Homo sapiens: one gene and its partners. The protein of the gene in region 1 purifies or fractionates together with the protein of each later gene. This does not show direct contact. Each region holds a gene or a part of one and is shown in the gene's direction. Other genes may lie near its edges.

Evidence for each region.
Region 2: the proteins of CAPN12 (region 1) and MPP1 purify together in Homo sapiens (affinity purification with mass spectrometry; one large-scale study listed by BioGRID and IntAct). This does not show direct contact.
Region 3: the proteins of CAPN12 (region 1) and INA purify together in Homo sapiens (affinity purification with mass spectrometry; one large-scale study listed by BioGRID and IntAct). This does not show direct contact.
Region 4: the proteins of CAPN12 (region 1) and RIOK2 purify together in Homo sapiens (affinity purification with mass spectrometry; one large-scale study listed by BioGRID and IntAct). This does not show direct contact.

What each region holds. Positions count from the first base shown.
Region 1 is NC_000019.10:38,734,465-38,739,476, reverse strand, and holds part of CAPN12 (calpain-12), read left to right. Parts: exon of another isoform or gene 1-828; coding exon 829-903; exon of another isoform or gene 904-973; coding exon 974-1,059; exon of another isoform or gene 1,060-1,129; coding exon 1,130-1,204; exon of another isoform or gene 1,205-1,838; coding exon 1,839-2,002; exon of another isoform or gene 2,003-2,088; coding exon 2,089-2,321; exon of another isoform or gene 2,322-2,913; coding exon 2,914-2,925; exon of another isoform or gene 2,926-3,158; coding exon 3,159-3,367; intron 3,368-3,932; coding exon 3,933-3,975; coding exon of another isoform or gene 3,976-4,047; coding exon 4,048-4,107; intron 4,108-4,606; coding exon 4,607-4,664; intron 4,665-5,012. UniProt on the Homo sapiens protein: Calcium-regulated non-lysosomal thiol-protease.
Region 2 is NC_000023.11:154,777,228-154,782,041, reverse strand, and holds the end of MPP1 (55 kDa erythrocyte membrane protein), read left to right. Parts: intron 1-239; coding exon 240-442; intron 443-728; coding exon 729-803; intron 804-2,688; coding exon 2,689-2,865; 3' UTR 2,866-3,358; downstream 3,359-4,814. UniProt on the Homo sapiens protein: Essential regulator of neutrophil polarity. Regulates neutrophil polarization by regulating AKT1 phosphorylation through a mechanism that is independent of PIK3CG activity.
Region 3 is NC_000010.11:103,286,582-103,291,802, forward strand, and holds the end of INA (alpha-internexin), read left to right. Parts: intron 1-453; coding exon 454-578; intron 579-1,778; coding exon 1,779-2,088; 3' UTR 2,089-3,765; downstream 3,766-5,221. UniProt on the Homo sapiens protein: Class-IV neuronal intermediate filament that is able to self-assemble. It is involved in the morphogenesis of neurons.
Region 4 is NC_000005.10:97,165,292-97,170,303, reverse strand, and holds part of RIOK2 (serine/threonine-protein kinase RIO2), read left to right. Parts: intron 1-1,451; coding exon 1,452-1,544; intron 1,545-2,312; coding exon 2,313-2,837; coding exon of another isoform or gene 2,838-2,865; exon of another isoform or gene 2,866-3,558; intron 3,559-5,012. UniProt on the Homo sapiens protein: Serine/threonine-protein kinase involved in the final steps of cytoplasmic maturation of the 40S ribosomal subunit. Involved in export of the 40S pre-ribosome particles (pre-40S) from the nucleus to the cytoplasm.

The sequences.
Region 1 (5,012 bases):
CATCTTTTTTTTTTTTTTTTTTTTTTTTGAGACGGAATCTTGCTCTGTCACCCAGGCTGGAGTGCAGTGGCACGACCTTGGCTCACTGTAACCTCTGTCACCCAAGTTCAAGCAATTCTCCTGCTTTGCCTCCCGAGTAGCTGGGACTACAGGCGCCCGCCACCATGCCCAGCTAGTTTTTTGTATTTTTAGTAGAGATGGGGTTTCACTGTGTTAGCCAGGATGGTCTCAATCTCCTGACCTTGTGATCTGCCCGCCTCGGCCTCCCAAAGTGCTGGGATTACAGGTGTGAGCCACCACAACAGGCCTCTTTCCATCTATTTTGTTTGTTTTTGTTTTTGGAGGCAGGGTCTCATCTCACTCTGTCACCCAGGCCAGAGTGCAGTAGTGTCATCATAGCTCACTATAGCCTTGACCTCTGGGCTCAAGGGATCCTCCTGCCTCAGCCTCCAGAGTAGCTGGGACCACTGGTGTGCACCACCACGCCTGTTGAATTTTTAAAATTTTTGTAGACTTGGGGTCTTGCTATGTTGCCCAGGCTGGTCTTGGACTCCTGGCCTCAAGTAGTCCTTCCACCTCGACCTCCCTAAGTGCTGGGATTACAGGCGTGAGCCCGTACCTCCATCTCCTTTTGTCTCGTTTCCATCTCCCTTCCTCTCCTTTTCTCTTTCGCCTTCAGTCACTAACCCTGACATGGTCTCTGAGCTGCGTGCCATTCAGTTCAGTGCTCTGGTTGGCTCCTGCCTTGGTGGCAGGAGGTTGGGGGCAGGGAGGAGCAGCTGCCCTCCTGTCCCCTACCTTGGCCTCACCATCCCATCCCCTGCCCAGAGTGATCGGGGTGAGTACCGCACAGAAGAGGGCCTGGTAAAGGGACACGCGTATTCCATCACGGGCACACACAAGGTAAGTGTCCCCCATGGGTGGGGTGGCAGGCCATGTCCAGGCATCACCCCCACTGACGATGCTGCCCCAGGTGTTCCTGGGCTTCACCAAGGTGCGGCTGCTGCGGCTGCGGAACCCATGGGGCTGCGTGGAGTGGACGGGGGCCTGGAGCGACAGGTGGGATGGGTCTGGGGTGGGTGTGGGGCTGGACCCCACCTGCCCGCCCCTCACACCACAGTCTCTCCAGCTGCCCACGCTGGGACACACTCCCCACCGAGTGCCGCGATGCCCTGCTGGTGAAAAAGGAGGATGGCGAGTTCTGGTCAGTTCGTCAGGGTCCCAGCTCTGCCTCTGGGAGGGTCTCTGCCAAGGGGTTCAGGGAGGGCGAGCCCCAGTTGAAGGATGGGTCCTAATAGGGAGAAACTGTGTACATCGGTGGTAATTTTGGGGCCAGGTTCTATTTTGGGAAATCAAGGAAGAATTGGTAGTAATATTAGAGAACCTCTGATTGGAGTGGGTTTAAAAAAGTAGTAATATGAGGGGAATTTGAAGGCCTAGTTATCTGTGGAGGATTGAAAGGGATGGGCAGTATTTAGGGCAATGGAGGAAGGCTTGGTGATATTTGGGGCATTTCTTGAGATTTGGCAATGTTGAGGGGCTGAAGGGTACTTGTTGGTAATTTAGAGTCTGAGGGTCTTGCTATTTGGGGGTTGGTGGCAATTTAACGATATTTGGGGGCAGCTTGTGAATCTTGGCGATTTGTGGGGCATGTCTGAGGACTTGGAGGAATTTGGCAGAGCTAGAGGCCCAGGCATTTGGGGTTCATTTCTGGAGCCTGAAGGGTATTTGACAATATTTAAGAAATGTGAGGGGCTTTGGGATCTGGGAGTCATTTCCGGGATCTTGGGACCCCCTCGAGGTGGGGCCGGGCAGGGTCTGACTGGGCCACCGTGCAGGATGGAGCTGCGGGACTTCCTCCTCCATTTCGACACCGTGCAGATCTGCTCGCTGAGCCCGGAGGTGCTGGGCCCCAGCCCGGAGGGGGGCGGCTGGCACGTCCACACCTTCCAAGGCCGCTGGGTGCGTGGCTTCAACTCCGGCGGGAGCCAGCCTAATGCTGGTGAGGCCTGAGGGGCCCTGAGAGGCTTCCTGGGGTGGGGGGCGCTGTGGCCGGCTAGGAAACCCCCTTTTTTCCTCCTCCCTTAGAAACCTTCTGGACCAATCCTCAGTTCCGTTTAACGCTGCTGGAGCCTGATGAGGAGGATGACGAGGATGAGGAAGGGCCCTGGGGGGGCTGGGGGGCTGCAGGGGCACGGGGCCCAGCGCGGGGGGGCCGCACGCCCAAGTGCACGGTCCTTCTGTCCCTCATCCAGCGCAACCGGCGGCGCCTGAGAGCCAAGGGCCTCACTTACCTCACCGTTGGCTTCCACGTGTTCCAGGTGAGGTCCTGGGCAAAGCTGAGGCTGGAGGGAACCCGGAGGGTGGAGGGGCGGGGCCGGGCCAAGGAGCGGGGGAGGCATGGAGGGGCGGGGCCAGTGGGAAGAGGGGAGGTGTGGAGGGCGGGGCCAAGGGGGAAGAGGGGGAGTGGTGGAGGGGTGGGACTGAAGAGGATCGGGGAGGAGGGGAGGAGTGGAGGAGCAGGGCCAAGAGGGGGCGGCGCTGGGAGGGGAGTAGGGGGCTAGTAGGGCTGGGGGGCCAGGTCTCAGAGGGGAGAGGGAGCTAAGGGAATGAGAGGGAGGGGCTCAGGGACAGACAGAGGGACGAGGTTAGGGACAGAGAGAGGCTGGGGGTTAGAAGGGCCAGAGGGGACCAAGGATACAGAGAAGGCGCTGGGAGCGCAGATGGGGAAGGAAGAGTTGGGGAGGGGTCGGCGAGGGCCTGGGTCGGGGACTGCGGGGCAAAGGTTCAATAAGGGTCTAATAGGACGAAGAAGGAGGGAGAGAGCACAGAGGTGAGAAGGGGCAGGGAGGAGACCCTGAGCGGCGGCCACCTCTCCCCTGCCCCGACGCCCCTTGCTCTTGCTTCTTTCAGATTCCAGAGGAGGTGAGTCTGGGATGGGGTCAACCGGCCCTGGGGCTTGGTCAACCTGCCCTGGGGCTTGGTCAACCTGCCCTGGGGCTTGGTCAAACTGCCCTGGGGGTGGGGGGGCAGAGCCGGGTCCGGGGGCAGGGGAGGCGTGGACAGGGGTTAGGCAGGGTGGACGGGGCGCGCTGGAGGGTGCGGGGATGAAGGGCCGGGGGTGAGCCTGGTCCGTGGTCATGCCGCCCCGTCCCCAGCTGCTGGGCCTCTGGGATTCCCCGCGCAGCCATGCGCTCCTGCCCCGGCTGCTGCGCGCCGACCGCTCGCCCCTCAGCGCCCGCCGCGACGTGACCCGCCGCTGCTGCCTGCGTCCAGGCCACTACCTGGTGGTGCCGAGCACCGCCCACGCCGGCGACGAGGCTGACTTCACTCTGCGTGTCTTCTCCGAGCGCCGCCACACGGCCGTGTGAGCCCCGGGCACCCAAATCCGACCCCATCCCTGCCTAGACAGGCCCCGAGACCCCCGAGACCCCCGAGACCCCCGAGACCCCCGAGACCCCCGAGACCTGACCTGCCCCGCCCCCAGAACCCCTGCCCCGCCCCGCCCCGCCCCCAGAACCCCCGCCCCGCCCCGCCCCCAGAACCCCCGCCCCGCCCCGCCCCGCCCCCAGAACCCCCGCCCCGCCCCGCCCCGCCCCGCCCCGCCCGCAGAACCACCGCCCCGCCCCGCCCCGCCCCCAGAACCCCCGCCCCGCCCCCAGAACCCCCGCCCCGCCCCGCCCCCAGAACCCCCGCCCCGCCCCGCCCCCAGAACCCCCGCCCCGCCCCCAGAACCCCCGCCCCGCCCCCAGAACCCCCGCCCCGCCCCCAGAACCCCCGCCCCGCCCCCAGAACCCCCGCCCCGCGAGGATGAGCCCAGGGCTCCACGGTCCCTACCTAGACCCCACGCGATTCCTCACCTGAGACCCCGTCCCACACAGCCCCAGCTGGGGCAAACAGCCCCCTCCCCACTTCCCATCTGTAATTTGCAGGGAGATCGACGACGTGATCAGCGCAGACCTGCAGTCTCTCCAGGTGGGGACTGTTCCTGGAGGGGCGGCATGGGGCGGGGATCTTGGCCAGCGCTAAACTTCCGCCATGCGGCAGGGCCCCTACCTGCCCCTGGAGCTGGGGTTGGAGCAGCTGTTTCAGGAGCTGGCTGGAGAGGTGAGGAGGGGGATTGGACTGAGGGGGTATCCCGCTGCGGCCTCCCCTTGGGGACCCCCCTTCCCCCACCCCAGCATCTCAGGTGTCTCATTTTGCTTGCTTTTTCCTCCCTCCGGGCTTAAATCTCCTGACCTTTTCTTGAAATGCTCACAGCTCCTCCCTGCCTCAGGGCCTTGGGCTCAGTCCATACCCTCTCCCAGGACCACCCTCTCCCTCCTGACACCTCCAGCCAGGCTCAGGTCTCATCTAAGGTGCCCAGCCCTGGAAGCTCTCCCTGACCACCCCCCTGCCCCAGGCCGGTCTGCTGGCCCCCCACCAGCAACCACAGCCCAGTGCTTCCCCCGTCACAGCCCTGGCCCTGTGGGGACAGGTCTGTCTCCCCCACTCCTGGAGCTAGGGCTCTGAGGCTCTGTCAGCCCCTGCCGTGTCCCTAGCACAGGGCTTGGCCCAGAGCAGCTGGATGAGTAAATGGCCTCACAAGCCCTCTTTCCTGGACTAGGAGGAAGAACTCAATGCCTCTCAGCTCCAGGCCTTACTAAGCATTGCCCTGGAGCCTGGTGAGTTGGCTGGGATAGGGGCAGGAGGAGGGGTCTTAGCCAGGGGTCCTGCAACCAGAGCCGGTGCCACCCTATGTCTATGAACCCACCGCGCTGCTGGGAGTTGGGCTCAGGAAGCCAGGGCTCAGCCTGGCAGCATCTCCCTGCAGGGGATCTTGTGTGGGCCCCGTGACCTGGGCCACGGCTGCTCGCAAGCTCCCCTTCCGCTGAAAGGCAAGGCTGCCTTGAGCACAGACTGGGCACCCCCTGCCTGGATTTGAATCCCAGCTCTGCTAGGCGCAGCAGTCACTGGCTCCCTGTGCCTCGGCTTCTATAATATGGGACTGACAACATCACCTGCTTAAGGGA
Region 2 (4,814 bases), on another chromosome or scaffold:
AGGAATTTTCTATGTTAGGCTTTGCCCCTTAAAAATTAAATGTGTCCTGGGCAGATGGAGGGATTTCCTGGTGTGCATCACTTTCTAGCATCAGCTCTTCAGGAGCCCACGGGAGGAACCCCTGTATTAAAGTCAATGCACCAAAGGCAGCTAGGGTTTCCATACAGACACCATGGTCCAAGCCCTCATGAAAGGGTGAGGACCTGGAGTTTGTCGGGGATTTGGGTTCTTGTACACAGATACAACACGGCCGCCAAGGAAGAGTGAGGAAGATGGGAAGGAGTACCACTTTATCTCAACGGAGGAGATGACGAGGAACATCTCTGCCAATGAGTTCTTGGAGTTTGGCAGCTACCAAGGCAACATGTTTGGCACCAAATTTGAAACAGTGCACCAGATCCATAAGCAGAACAAGATTGCCATCCTTGACATTGAGCCCCAGGTGGGTAGGCATGGAAGGGCAGGGACAGATGGGCTCAGCCACACAAGGGATGGCGAAGACAGTGCTCCTTGGGAATCTTCTGGGGGCTCAGGATTGCTTCAGCCTTTTAATGGGGTCAGCCTGGAACAAGAACAGTAGTACTGGGAATGATGGAAAGTTGTATTGGGGTAAAGCTCAAAGCTGCTTATTAGAAGGAATCCATTATGACAGCTATGTAGGTTTTTTTTTTTCACTTTCCTTTTCTTCCTTCCCCCCCCTCCCCGCCGCCCTTCTTTTTTTTTTCTAGACCCTGAAAATTGTTCGGACAGCAGAACTTTCGCCTTTCATTGTGTTCATTGCACCTACTGACCAGGGCACTCAGGTGAGGAGAGGTTGTGCGCGATGGGTAGTTCACTTTCTCCGGGCCTGCCCATACTGGGACCTCAGTCCAGGTCATTGGCCAGAGTGCTGGCTGGAGGTCACAGCTCCAGCTGGGCTTCTTCCTCCAGGGCCAAGAAGCCAAAGGGTATGCACATTCGTTCCAGCTCTTAAGCCACTAGCTAGGCCAGTGCCCATGCTACCTAACAGGGACAAAACAAACCAGACCCAGTCATCGTCCTGGAGGCACACAGTTCCAGGGGCAGAGATGGACAGTTGAGCAGATCCTGATACTGGTGGGATGCAGGCTCTGGCAGGGGAAGCTGTGATGGACAGAGGTGGCACTGAACCCGCCCTGGGGTGCAGTATGGCTGTGGGGAAAGACAGAGAGGCCAGGAATATATCAAAAAGCCTACCCTGCTCCTCTGCCCAGCCCTACCCATGCACTTTGCTGCACTGTGCTTTTGCATTGAACAATGGACACCTTTCCCTATCAGGGTGTGAGGAACTCTTTTTCTCTATAGCTGCTTGGTCTTCTGCTGCATGCATGTGTAATACTGCAGTCAATAGCCCTGTGCATATAGCACATGTGTGCAAATATATCTGTAGGAAAAACTCCAAGTAGGATCACTGGGTCCAAGAGCACACACACTTAGAATTTGGACAGGGACCGCCAACCACCTGTGAGACTGCTTGTTTCTCTTTGCCTGCAGCATGTTGTCAAAATTTTCTTTTTTTGCCAGTCTACTGGAGGGAAAAATAGTATCTCATATTTCTTTTTTACTAAAAGAGATGATCAGGTACTTTTTCATATGAAGAGCAATTTGTATTGCCTTTTCTGAGAATTATCTGGTCATACCCTTAGCTCATTTTTCTGCTGAGTTATTGACCTTTGATTTATAGGAAGTCTATATTAGGGTAATTAGCCCTTTGTAATATCAGCTGCAATTTTTTTCCAATTTGGCATGTCTTTTTGCTATGCAGACATTTTTACTTTTATGTAGTTACATGATTTGTCTTTCATGGCTGCTTGGTTTTAGGTCAAAGACAGAGTCCTGAGATATATATACACACACATTTTTAAATTTTGTTTTTTGTAGAAATGGGGTCTCACTGTGTTGCCAGGCTGGTCTTGAACTCCTGTGCTCAAGCAATCATCCTGCCTTGGCCTTCCAAAGTGCTGGGATTACAGGTGTGATCTGGGATTAGAAGTCACCTTTATCTGACTGGGTGCAGTGGCTCACACCTGTAATCCCAGCACTTTGAGAGGCCGAGGCGGGCGGATCACCTGAGGTCTAAAGTTCCAGACCAGCCTGGCCAACATGGCAAAACCCTGTCTCTACTAAAAATACAAAAATTAGCCAGATGTGGTGGCGCATGCCTGTAATCCCAGCTACTCGGGAGGCTGAGACACGAGAATTGCTTGAACCCGGGAGGCGGAGGTTGCAGTGAGCCGAGATTGTGCCACTGCACTCCAGCCTGGGCCACAGAGCAAGACACTGTCTCAAAACAAAACAAAACAACAAAATCACCTTTATCTTCGTTTTAGGATTGCAGCTCTGGTGGTTGTTGAAATGGCTCTTCCATGTTCAAAGGGCATTAAGTGGGAGATGCTGGTGAAGTCCATGCTGTCTCTGCATAGCTATTGGTCCTCCAGAGGACTCTGATTAGTCAGGGTTAGCTTGAGATCCTCTGAGAATTGCCATGGTCTTTTGAGATTGCCTCTTCATGCCCTACATTAACATTCTTTCACAATGTCTTCTGAATTTGACTCGTCAAGTATGATGCACAGCTGAGCAACGCTAACAATTGCTGTTTAAAATCTGTCACTGGCCTCTCTGGGCTGGGGGTGGTGCAGCTTGCTTCATCTGTGGCTTTCTTCTTTGCAGACAGAAGCCCTGCAGCAGCTGCAGAAGGACTCTGAGGCCATCCGCAGCCAGTACGCTCACTACTTTGACCTCTCACTGGTCAATAATGGTGTTGATGAAACCCTTAAGAAATTACAAGAAGCCTTCGACCAAGCGTGCAGTTCTCCACAGTGGGTGCCTGTCTCCTGGGTTTACTAAGCTTGTAGAATGGGGGAACCCACTGTATGCCCCTCTCCAGCATTTGGAATTCCACCCGCCTTGCTTTAAGACAAACAGGGCTGCTCCAACTAGTTTTGTGTCAGCTTCCAGCTCTCTGCAGCTATCCTAATTCAGCCAGTAAGGTTCAGTCTTCTTGCTCAGGCTCCTGAAGGGTTGATTCTCCTGATAGATGGGGCCCCACTGATCTGGATTTGAAAAGGATTTCTAGAAATTGGGGGTAAGAAGTACTACCAAAATGTAACTGCTAATCAAGGGTGATGCACAGCAAAAGCAATGGACCCCATCCCTCTAAAGCCTGCCCTCCTTTGCCTTCAACTGTATATGCTGGGTATTTCATTTGTCTTTTTATTTTGGAGAAAGCGTTTTTAACTGCAACTTTCTATAATGCCAAAATGACACATCTGTGCAATAGAATGATGTCTGCTCTAGGGAAACCTTCAAAAGCAATAAAAATGCTGTGTTGAAATGCCAATGACCTTGTAACTCTGGGTTTCCACACAAAAAGAAATGTGGCCCATTTCACTTAAGCTCCTGGACAACAGCATTAACACAAGATGCCTCTCTTGTGTTCAGATGATAAACACTGGTGCCCTGGAAGAGTCCCCATTCTCTGCCCCCACTGCAGGGCTCTACTGGCTAGTGCCCATGTAGAAAAACACCCTTAAGGTTGTTGTAGCTAGTGGAGCGCTCATTGTGGGCACATATTTAGAACGAGAGAAAATCCAAGCCTGGGGTCCCGTGGTACAGTGGAGGCCGGTCGCTGAGCCAGGGCTGGGGCCCACCCTGCATGCCTGGCTCATGATATGGCTACAGCTCAGGGCCTCGCCTCGCTGCATCCAAGAGCGCTTTTTTTTTTTTTTTTTTTTTTTTTTTTTTGAGACAGTCTGTTTTGCCAGGCTGGAGTGCAGTGGCAGGATCTCGGCTCACTGCAACCTCCACCTCCCAGGTTCCAGGGGATTCTCCTGCCTCAGCCTCCCGAGTAGCTGGGATTACAGGCACACGCCACCACACCTGGCTAATTTTTGTATTTGTAGTAGAGATGGGTTTTGCCATGTTGGCCCAGGCTGGTCTCAGACTCCTGACCTCGGGTGATCTGCCCGCCTCAGCCTCCCAAAGCACTGGGATTATAGGTGTGAGCCATTGCACCCGGCCTCTTTCTTGGTTCTTAATACCAAATCGGAAGCAACCCTAGACCTTTCTTCCACTAATCTGTCACCAAGGCCTTCAGATTCCTGCATGTCCCCACCCTCAGCTTCGTTCTCCCGACTCACCCTGCCCCCCGCTCCTGCCAGGCCCACTATGTATAAATACATTAACCCTCTCCTTCTCTGTTCTTCTAGAGATCAGTGGTTTTGTGGTAATCACTGCCTCTGAGTACTTGATCTCACATCAGATGACAGGGCCCAAGGTGGATTGTGTAAGATACAGAACAAAAATGTAAAAACCAGAAAACAAACATAAAAGCATCACATTTCAAATAGGACATAAAGGTCCCTAGATTTTTAATCAAAATATTTTACAATTTTTGCTCTGCTAGCATGAGATCAACAAGAAAACCCAACAGGAATACATAAAAAACTTAACAAGTTGACTTTAATAAGTAAAAATTACAACATTCTTCTCCCAGCAATGAACAATTTCATTTTTTAAAAGTAAACGAGGCCTAAAACAAGAGGGCACAGGAACAAGTAGTCAGATGGATTTAGGTGAGCACTGTACACAAGCTTTGAGGAAGTGCAAAGGACTGACCTCTAGGCCAGAACAAGATGGAAAACTACCAGGCCCATCAGGCCTATAACCCAGACACCAGCATGGACAAAACTCAGTTATACTGAATTCAGAGACAAAATTCAGTGACACTCTTCTACCACTTATTTAGGGTTCTACAGCATTTCACTGAGCAGACTTAGTTTTTTGTTTTTGTTTTA
Region 3 (5,221 bases), on another chromosome or scaffold:
TCGGAATTTTCTGAATCTAAGCTGCTAACCTGAGGCTTTGGGTTTTGGAAAGCACATGCTACAACAGAGTTATTTAGCAGCAACACAACAAGCAAGGGAGGGATGGTAAGTGTAAAAAAAAAAAAAATCATCTCCATGTTCAGTTCAGAACTATATGCCGTGTGGCTATCCTGAAAAGGGCAGGTGTTCACTTGCCCTCTGGGTAAAAGTTCCCAGTCCTCACCATGAGTCCAAATCTCCTGGGGACCTTTATGAAAAAAATGCAAATGCTGGGACCCCACCCCAGAACCAGTGAATCTGGATCTGGACTCAGGGACAGACCTGGATATAAGCAAGTTATAAGTTCATTAGATGATTTTAATGTGTAGTCAGGGCTGGGAATCCTTGCCTTCTGGAAATCTTGAGGAATTTCAGCTGGTTTGGCCTAACTATTTTGGATATGTTACTTTTCAGGATAGCATTGGGCAGCTGGAGAATGATCTGAGGAACACCAAGAGTGAGATGGCACGCCACCTTCGGGAATACCAGGACTTGCTCAATGTCAAAATGGCTCTTGACATTGAGATAGCAGCTTACAGGTACTGCAAAGGACCTGCTTACCCGAGTAAATCCAGTCACCTAGGGGCAATGCTGCCCAAATAAGTGGATCTAGTCTCTCTGGCTTCTGACTGGTGAGGGAGGGAAGAAGGGCATCACTGGCCCCTTTCAGGTGAGCTGACTGCTCTGTCCCTCTACTTAGATATAATCCAGCTCCATCTGACTAGTCCCAGAGTATTCTGTGTACCTCTGAAAGGATTTAAGGGGATAATGTGAGTACACAGAGGTTAAAATAAAAACCCATGAGACTCGTAACTTTAAAAATAGGGTTTGGGGCCAAGTGCAGTAGCTCACTCCTATAATCCCAGCACTTTGGGAGGCCAAGGTGGGTGGATCACTTGAGATCAGGAGTTCAAGACCAGCCTGGCCAACATGGTGAAACCCAGTCTCTACTAAAAACACAAAAATTGGCCAGGCGTGGTGGCACACACCTGCAGTCCCAGCTACTCTGGAGGCTGAGGCAAGAGAATCGCTTGAACCTGGGAGGTGGAGGTTGCAGTGAGCTGTGATCATGTCACTGCACTCCAGCCTGGGAGACAGTGAGACTCTGTCTAAAAAAAAAAAAAAAAAAAAAGGATAATTAAAAACTATTAAGAGTTATGAGAAACATGGTTTGGGGCCACTCTTTTATAAGACTGTTTTCGTCACGCTGATAAAAATCTGTTATCTGAAACAGTGTCATTCACTGGTTTTTGTTATTGCTGGTTCTATTCCCTTTGTACCCGTATACACTGAAAAAGTACAAATCTCAAATCCAGGTTGAGTAAGACAGTTTCTACCACCTTTGTGGACATCTCACCTCCTTATCCCTATTGCAGCTAAGGTGTTACTTAGGAAAAGTACTTCTCCCTAGAGCTTTGTTGCTAATTGCCAAAAATGGGTGTGATGTGGCCAAGTGGAGTTGCAGGTTTTCCTCCTGGAATATATTTGTGAACAGGATAGGTTTTCCTTTGACAATGCTTTAAACATAGCTGGTGCTGAAGGGGGGTGTGTGTGTGCGCATGCGTATGCACGTGGTCCAACCCTTTGAGCTTTGAAATTAAATATTTATTGGTTTCAATCTCATGAAGAAACTCCAAAGTCCTTTGGAATCTCTCTCAAATGAATCAGGATTGGAGGGTTGAGTTCTGGGGGGGAAAAGTTATTGACTTCCTAAGAGTTTTTCTCTGTTGAATTTACAGGAAACTGCTGGAAGGCGAGGAGACACGTTTTAGCACCAGTGGGTTAAGCATTTCGGGGCTGAATCCACTTCCCAATCCAAGTTACCTGCTCCCACCTAGAATCCTCAGTGCTACAACCTCCAAAGTCTCATCCACTGGGCTATCACTTAAGAAAGAGGAGGAGGAGGAGGAGGCATCTAAGGTAGCCTCTAAGAAAACCTCCCAGATAGGGGAAAGTTTTGAAGAAATATTAGAGGAGACAGTAATATCTACTAAGAAAACCGAGAAATCAAATATAGAAGAAACCACCATTTCAAGCCAAAAAATATAATTCCATTGCTTTGAAAAAGTTAATGCTTAAGAGGGAATGATATGCATTTGACTTGTTAAACAGCCTATTCCTGAACTATAACACCTGCCACCACTATAAAATGTCTTCAAGGCTTCAGTCTCATATTTAGTATTGAATACTTACATTCTCTAATAAGAAAACCACCCCTTAGATTGAAGTAAACTGCAGTCCTGGAGCAATCACAGATGAGTTATCTAAGAATACAGCTTTCTGACCTTCAGCTCACGCTTCACAGTGATCGATGATTCAGGTGCAGAGGAAGTACAAACTAAGGTGCTAAATCTGCGATCATCGTCATTTGCTGTGAACTGAAATTAAAACTATTCATGCTACCCAGCCATTACCCAGCTAAATAATCTTACTCTAGATACCTAAAACATAAGATCACTGCCAGAGATAAACTAATGGTCCACACCCAATTCCACTCTGATAGAATTATTTCACAAATAATAGGTGTTTGTTTAATGGACACTTTTCACCTCCTTCAATTCCATATATCCTTTTCTTCTATGTAGGAAAAAAATAGTCTAGTGTAGTATTCTTCCCTTTTAAACACATTTTGGTTCTTCTCAAAAGAACTTACCCCCATTCGCGCTCTGCTCAGTGGGTAAAATTAGATGCATGTTGACCATGTCTATGATTCGTGTAATTACTTATCCCTGCCCATTTCATATTCTTTCAATTCTGTAGGTTAAAAAAATGGCAGTGATGAATTTTAAGGGTTTCCCCCAACATATAAAATAATGCAAAGAATCCCTAGACTTTAGGCTTTCAGCTTACACAAATCTATTTAATTAGGAAAAAAACTATTAAGGATGTAGCTTTTCACCTTTACTTTAGAAGCACAGTAAATATCCCAAACTGTGATGAAGCCGACCTTAGATTTAGTAGTGTAAGCTAGAAGAAGTGAGTGTTTCTATGAGTGGAAAAAGCCAAGGTGTCATTTATGTGTCAGTTCATTTGTGGTGATATAGAATTAGCTTTTTCATCCCCTTACCCTTAGAATCCACGTATTCCCCTTCCCACTAGCCTAGGTCATAAAGAGGCGTTGCTTTCACTCTCCTATGCCTTTTACGAGTGCTAAGTGTAGGATATTTTGTCACCAGAACACAATGCTACCGCCCCAAAGTAAAAGAAACCACTTCTGGTCAATCAACACTACCAGCGTATATATAAGAAAGACATCTTTCTCTTTTCTAAAAGACTTCCCTAACACTTACCCCATGGCTGCACAGTTGGTGGGGTCCTGCCGGAGAGGAAGAGACACTCAGACCAGAGAAGGGGTGTGCATGCGCCTACTCGCTTGCTAGAAGTAGATTCTGGACAGTCAGCTCTTCATCTGCCCAACTGTGTAGCATCTGCATTGCCCAGTCTTTCATGTGTGCCAAGGCTGATGCAGGATTTGTTCTCTGTCCAGCAGTCACTTCGGCCAGAGCTGAAGAGTTGCCCCGTCTCTGTTCCATGTCTCCTTTAAGAGCTCTGGTGATAAGGACATGATGCTTTTACTGAACTTTCTTATCCTAGCACATGCTTCAATAGTTCAAGGAACTTGAAAAATACTTTTCCTTACCTTTACCCCATCCCTGTCTTTACTCCTCACACTTACTGTAAGACATTAGTAACATAATAAATTAAAAGTCACACGAATCTCACCAACATAATTCGTGTTCTGTGGTTCCTGCCCTTTCACTGAGAGAAGCACTGTTTGGGTTCAGAGTCAGTCTGGCTCTGACTGATTTGTATCTTCTCTTTTTAGTGAGCCACCTTAATTGCCATGAACTTATTTATAGAAGAAAGATATTGGCCAAGCGTGGTGGCTCATGCCTGGAATCCCAACACTTTGGGAGGCCAAGGTGGGGGTGGTGGGGCAGATGGCCTGATCCCAGGAGTTCGAGACCAGCCTGGGCAACATAGGGAGACCTCATCTCTCAAAAAAATACAAAAATTAGCCAACTGTGGTGGCTCCTGTAGTCCCAGCTACTGGGGAGCTGAGGTGGGAGGATCACTTCAGCCCGGGAGGTGGATGCTGCAGTGAGTTGAGATCACGCCACTGCACTCCAGCTTGGGCAACAGAGTGAGACCCTATCTCAAAAAAAAGAAGAGTAACTTACAGAGTTGAAAAATGATTAATTCAGAATAATAGATAACATGGAAAATGTTCAGAATCAAAGCAGAGAGGTCAAGAGAAGGAAAGCAAGTGACATCAACTGTTACCTAAACAAGACAACAAAATGAATCCAAGAGATGAGGGGAAAGCCTTCCTGCAGCATGTGCTAATGATATCCCATATGACTTTCAGATTCATTAGACAATTATATCCCCTGCATCCAGAGACTTCATAATAGCTAAACTTTATTCAGTACCTATTTACTATGTGTCAGACACTATATGAGCTAGTAAACAGAATTGTATAAACCTCACAACTACTCGTTAGGTATAGTATTTGTATCCCCATTTTACAAATGAAGAAGTAGAACCTCAGAATAACAAGGTTAATACCCTGGTCTGATATCACACAGGAAGTGGCAGAGCTGAGCTTTGGACCCTTGTCTTCTGTCTGACTCTACAATACTTGCTTTTCTTCCCTTTTTTTTTTTTTTTTTTTTAATGAGATGGAGTCTTGCTCTGTTGTTCAGGCTGGAGTGCAGTGGCATGATTTCGGCTCACTGCAACCTCCACCTCCTGGGTTCAAGCGATTCTCCTTCCTCAGCCTCCCATGTAGCTGGAACTACAGGTGTGTGCCACCACGCCCAGCTAATTTTTGTATTTTCAGTGGAGACGGGGTTTCATCATGTTGGCCAGGCTGGTCTCGACCTCCTGACCTCAAATGATCCACCCGCCTCGGCCTCCCAAAGTACTGGGATTACAGGCGGGAGCCACCACACCTGGCCCTTATGTTTCCTTTCTACATAAATCCCCTTGCTGAAGGGAGTAGAAGTCTTTCTTTTTATCTTGTTCCACCTCTTTCTCACCATGTTTTACTTAAGGTTTCTCTGTCCCAGAAAACTTTTGCAACACCAAATCCTCCAGGCAAACTGCTGCACTCGCAGACTTCCTCAGCCGCTGCCTTCCTGCATTGCCAGGAGGTGGTGGTATCTCAAAACTGGACTTT
Region 4 (5,012 bases), on another chromosome or scaffold:
CACATTACTTATTTAAACCAAGCCAGCCAAGTCATGAAACAGGACCTTATCCTTTATTTGCTTGAGGTTTATGATTCAATTGAGTGTAACTAAGGATTTTTTTTTCTTTCTGTTCCAAGCTTTATGAGAAACTTTTTTCCTAAACTAACAACTAGTATCACTTATATAATAGAGTATATTAATTCTTCCAGAGATTGAGCTTGAAGTAGTTTTGTTAAGTGAAGCGTCTCTTCATCCTGGTTTCCAGTAGAAAATGTCTATACTTATGCTACAGAAAGAAATGTCATTTGAAAATAAATTTTTAAAACGTTTTCAACAAAATAATACTAAAAGATTAATGCCTGGCACTGGGGTGGTCAGTACTCTTTGGATGATGACTAATCATGATTTTTATTAATAAGGAGTAACATAGTCACACAGTAAAGGAACATCTAGGAGCCTCCAGAGTGTGACAGATTATGACATTCTAGGTTTAGGCTGCATCGTTCTATGGAGAGACATTGTGATTTAATTTCAATTTTTATGAACCAGTTCTGGGGCCAAGGAGCTGTGCTAATTGCTAGAGATTGAGATATAAATAACCCCTATATATGCTTTAGAAAATGTTACTGTCTCGTAGGGAGATGTAAACATATATAAAATAGTCTTTTTAAAATGTATTAGTATTTTTCCCAGAGTACCCTGTGAGCAAAGAGGAGAGGCATTATCTTCCTATTTCCAAACTTCATCTTTCTCAAAGAGAGTCAATTGCACATTATCCTGTCCTTAATTCTCCCTTGTCTGGAAATCTTCTAGAGAATTGAATCCATTTTTGCTGCTTTGTGGTGGCCCAAAAAGGCAGCCTGATATTCAGATATTGTTCTACTTTTGGTCCAGATTAACATGTCCTCAGATTATTTTTATAGGCTGTAGCATTATTTATCCCTTTGGGTGTTATTGCAAATCGGCTAATGGATAACAAAGATACATAAACATAATTCAGTAGTCTCCAAACTTAACTGTTTAATATTAATATCTTTTTATCGTCAGATCTTTCAGTTGGCTAGGGGTTCTAGTGAGTGTTGCTGATAAGAAGCATAGCCAGACTCAGGACGAACAGAATAAGTGGAAACCTATCCCCAAACCATAGGCCCATTATCTTATTTCCTGGGGTTCACATTCATCTTTCCCTAGTGTATCTAACTATATACCAGTAACTATGACAAAACCTTGACTTTCCTAACCGTAGGAACTGCATGGCATTGACAGCTTATATCCTTGAGATTTCCTTGGATTTTAGTTTTTCAAACACACTGGTTAACTCATTTGTATCTTTTTTCTTTTGTGTAACATCTTTTATCTCCTTGTGTAAGGAGGAGCAATACCATTAACCAATAAGTATATTGTCATTGGCTAATAAGGAAAAAGAGGAGCAATAAAGACTATATCATAAATGATTCTTGCTTTTGCAGGTATTTTGACAGAGATGTTAAATGCATTAAAGATTTCTTTATGAAACGTTTCAGCTACGAAAGTGAGCTTTTTCCAACTTTTAAGGATATCAGGTTTGTACTCCCCATTGCTTTACATAATAGAACAGTTTAAATATCTGGTCTGTGTATTTCTAAAAATTAACATTTTCATCTAAAAAACTTTCCAAATTTTGACACGTAATCACTGTTAGATGTCATTGCTCTGTAGTACATAACTGAAACTTAAAAACTTGAAAATACCTGCATTTGGTCCATTAAGGCACTGTTACTGAATTTTAGGAAGCGGACATATCTAGATTCTTATAAATTCAAGAACTTTTATTCTATTTTGGATGCTATTTGAGTAACTCATTCATAAGGAATAACACCAAACATTCATTGAAATTTGTGTTTTTCCTTTATCAAGGACCAGGAGGTATCTTTAATTGATTCTCAAAACATAACTATCATGTGCATTCTCAAAGCTCAGTTTTCTCATATTTATTTTATACACTTAAGATATTTTCTGATCTGGGATGAGTCACATAATCTGAAGGAAATCCTTAGCCCCCTTTGAAAGTTAATTTACAAAGTTAATAAACATAAGCTGAGGTTTTTATAACCTTTTTATTTATATTGTTGCTTTTCAGTTATTTTATTCTTAAAATGACAGCCAGCATATACCTTTCATATTTGTTTACCTGTGTCATTTAAATATTACATTTTAGGGAAGGAAAATTTATTTTTAACATATAAGCTATTAAACTCACTTGAATCATAATTTATCAGAGTAGTAGATATTTGCTCCTCTTAGATAAACATTTTTTCTCTCTTTCTATGCTTGACGCCTTTTTTTTCTAGGAGAGAAGACACTCTTGATGTGGAGGTTTCTGCCAGTGGCTACACAAAGGAAATGCAGGCAGATGATGAACTGCTTCATCCATTAGGTCCAGATGATAAAAATATTGAAACAAAAGAGGGATCTGAATTCTCATTTTCAGATGGAGAAGTGGCAGAAAAAGCAGAGGTTTACGGGTCAGAAAATGAAAGTGAACGGAACTGTCTAGAAGAATCAGAGGGCTGCTATTGCAGATCATCTGGAGACCCTGAACAAATAAAGGAAGACAGTTTATCAGAAGAGAGTGCTGATGCACGGAGTTTTGAAATGACTGAATTCAATCAAGCTTTAGAAGAAATAAAAGGGCAGGTTGTTGAAAACAACTCTGTAACTGAATTTTCTGAGGAGAAAAACAGAACTGAAAATTACAACAGGCAAGATGGTCAGAGAGTTCAAGGAGGAGTCCCTGCTGGCTCTGACGAGTATGAAGATGAATGCCCTCATCTAATTGCCTTGTCGTCATTAAATAGAGAATTCAGGCCTTTCAGGTATAGACTTCTGTCGATTGCTTTTTAACTTTAGTCTTGAGACTGATACTTTGTTAGATTCTAGTAAAAGAATGTTTTTTTCAAATGATGTGACAAAATTGTATTCTGCCACCTTGATGTATAAAATGAAAGCCAAATAATTTTTTGTTGTTAAAAACTCAAAATAGCTTCCTTTTCAATTGACCTGATTCTAGGCAGCCTATTGACTAAATTTCAAGTAATTCTGCCTTAAAATACAAACTGATGGCTGGGCACAGTGGCTCGCTCATGCCTGTAATCTCAGCACTTCTGGGAGGCCAAGGCAGGCAAATCACCTGAGGTCAGGAGTTTGAGACCAGCCAGGCCAACATGGCAAAACCCTGTCTCTACTAAAAATATAAAAATTAACCGGGCATGGTGGCCTGTGCTTGTAATCCCAGCTACTTGGGAGACTGAGGCAGGAGAATCACTTGAACCTGGGAGGCAGAGGTTGCAGTAAGCCAAAGATCGTACCACTGCACTCCAGCCTGGGTGACGAGCAAAAAACTCCGTCTCAAAAATATATATATATATACAAACTGATGATTTTAAAATTATTGCAGGTCTCTGGATACATTGATCAGGTTTTAGATGGATGAGTTATTCCTCATATATTTTCCTAATTACACATCTGATGTGTGTTTGAGTTATGTAAAGGCATGTAAATATTAAAACATGCAATAAATGTACTTTCTATATGAAACATCTGCAGTGAATTTTCTCTAGTACCTTGAGCCTTCTATCCTTTGTTCATGTGTAGTTAAAATTATCTAATGATATTATGTTTTCTTTTAATAATTTTTTTTTGTAAATATTAATCAGGCTCAGCTTAGATTAGGAAAAGTTCTAAAACTTAATTTTTGGATTTGGGATTGCTTATTCAGAATCAAATTGTAGTTAAATGAAATATTGGTTTTATTTATTTCAAAATAGTAATATGACAATTAAAATTAGTTCAGCAATACATTTATTAAACATTTTTCAGTACATGTTTGGGCTTATATCTTAAGCCTACCTTTATCTTTAAAGTTTTATTCCTGAAGCAAAACATGAGAATTTTGTTCCTTTTTCATATAGCTGTGTATCTGTGTCACAGGGCTACTGCCATTTAAATAATAAACTTGGAAAATTAAATCAGAAGCTTAAAAGGAAAAGAGGGGTGACAGAGGCTCAGGATTTTGAGTAAGTGATTGTATTAGACTGGATTCTTCAAAGAAACAGAATAAATAGGAGATTTATTTTAAGGAATTAGCCCATGGGGTTATGGAGGCTGAGAAGTCCCAGGATCTGTAGTCAACAAGCTAGAGACCAAGGAGAGCCCATGGTACAGTTCCAGTCCAAATCCAAAGAGCTAAGAACCAGAAGAGACAATAGCATAAGTTCCAGTCCACATCCAAAGAAAGGAGAGGACCCATGTCCCAGTTCAAAGACAGTTCTCTCTTACTTTGCCTTTTTGTTCTCATCAGGCCTTCAATGGATTGGATGAGGTCCACCCACACTGGGGAGGGCAATCTGCTATACTCAGTTTATTGATTCAGAAACGCCCTCAAAGACACACCCAAGTTAATGTTTAACCAAATATATGGCACCCTGAGGCCCAGTCAAGTTAACATATAAAATTAACCATCACAGTGATAGAAGAAAATCTATATAGGATTAAATGGTCTTTTAAACTCAGAATGGGAACAATAATTTTGTTCCCACTCTGGATACATGCTGGGCAAAACTTCCATTCAAAGTAAAAGCAGAACAGCAGATGTTGCTGAAAAATATTAACTGTTAGGAGTTAATATCGTCCGAGTTTTTATACATTGCATATATTGAAACTTTGAGCCATGTGAAAAACATTAGTCTCTAGGTTGCAGATTTTCCTACCCTAGTGGAGCTGACTATAATGAGTACTGTCTGTTTCCATTATATCTTCTGTTTGTGAAGGTGGAAAGAGTCTCAAAAATTTAGATAGGGAGAGACAGATTTATATAGTTCAGTGAAAGAAGAGGAGAGGATTATTAGAAAAGGGAAGATGAATTGTGGGGAGGTGATAAATTTCAATGGCTTAAGCATTCTACTGTTTTTAAATTTTGATAGTGACTAACAAAATGCTGGAAAATGAAAATTGTTAATGTATAGAACTTAACAGTAGGTAGTTTTATCTTC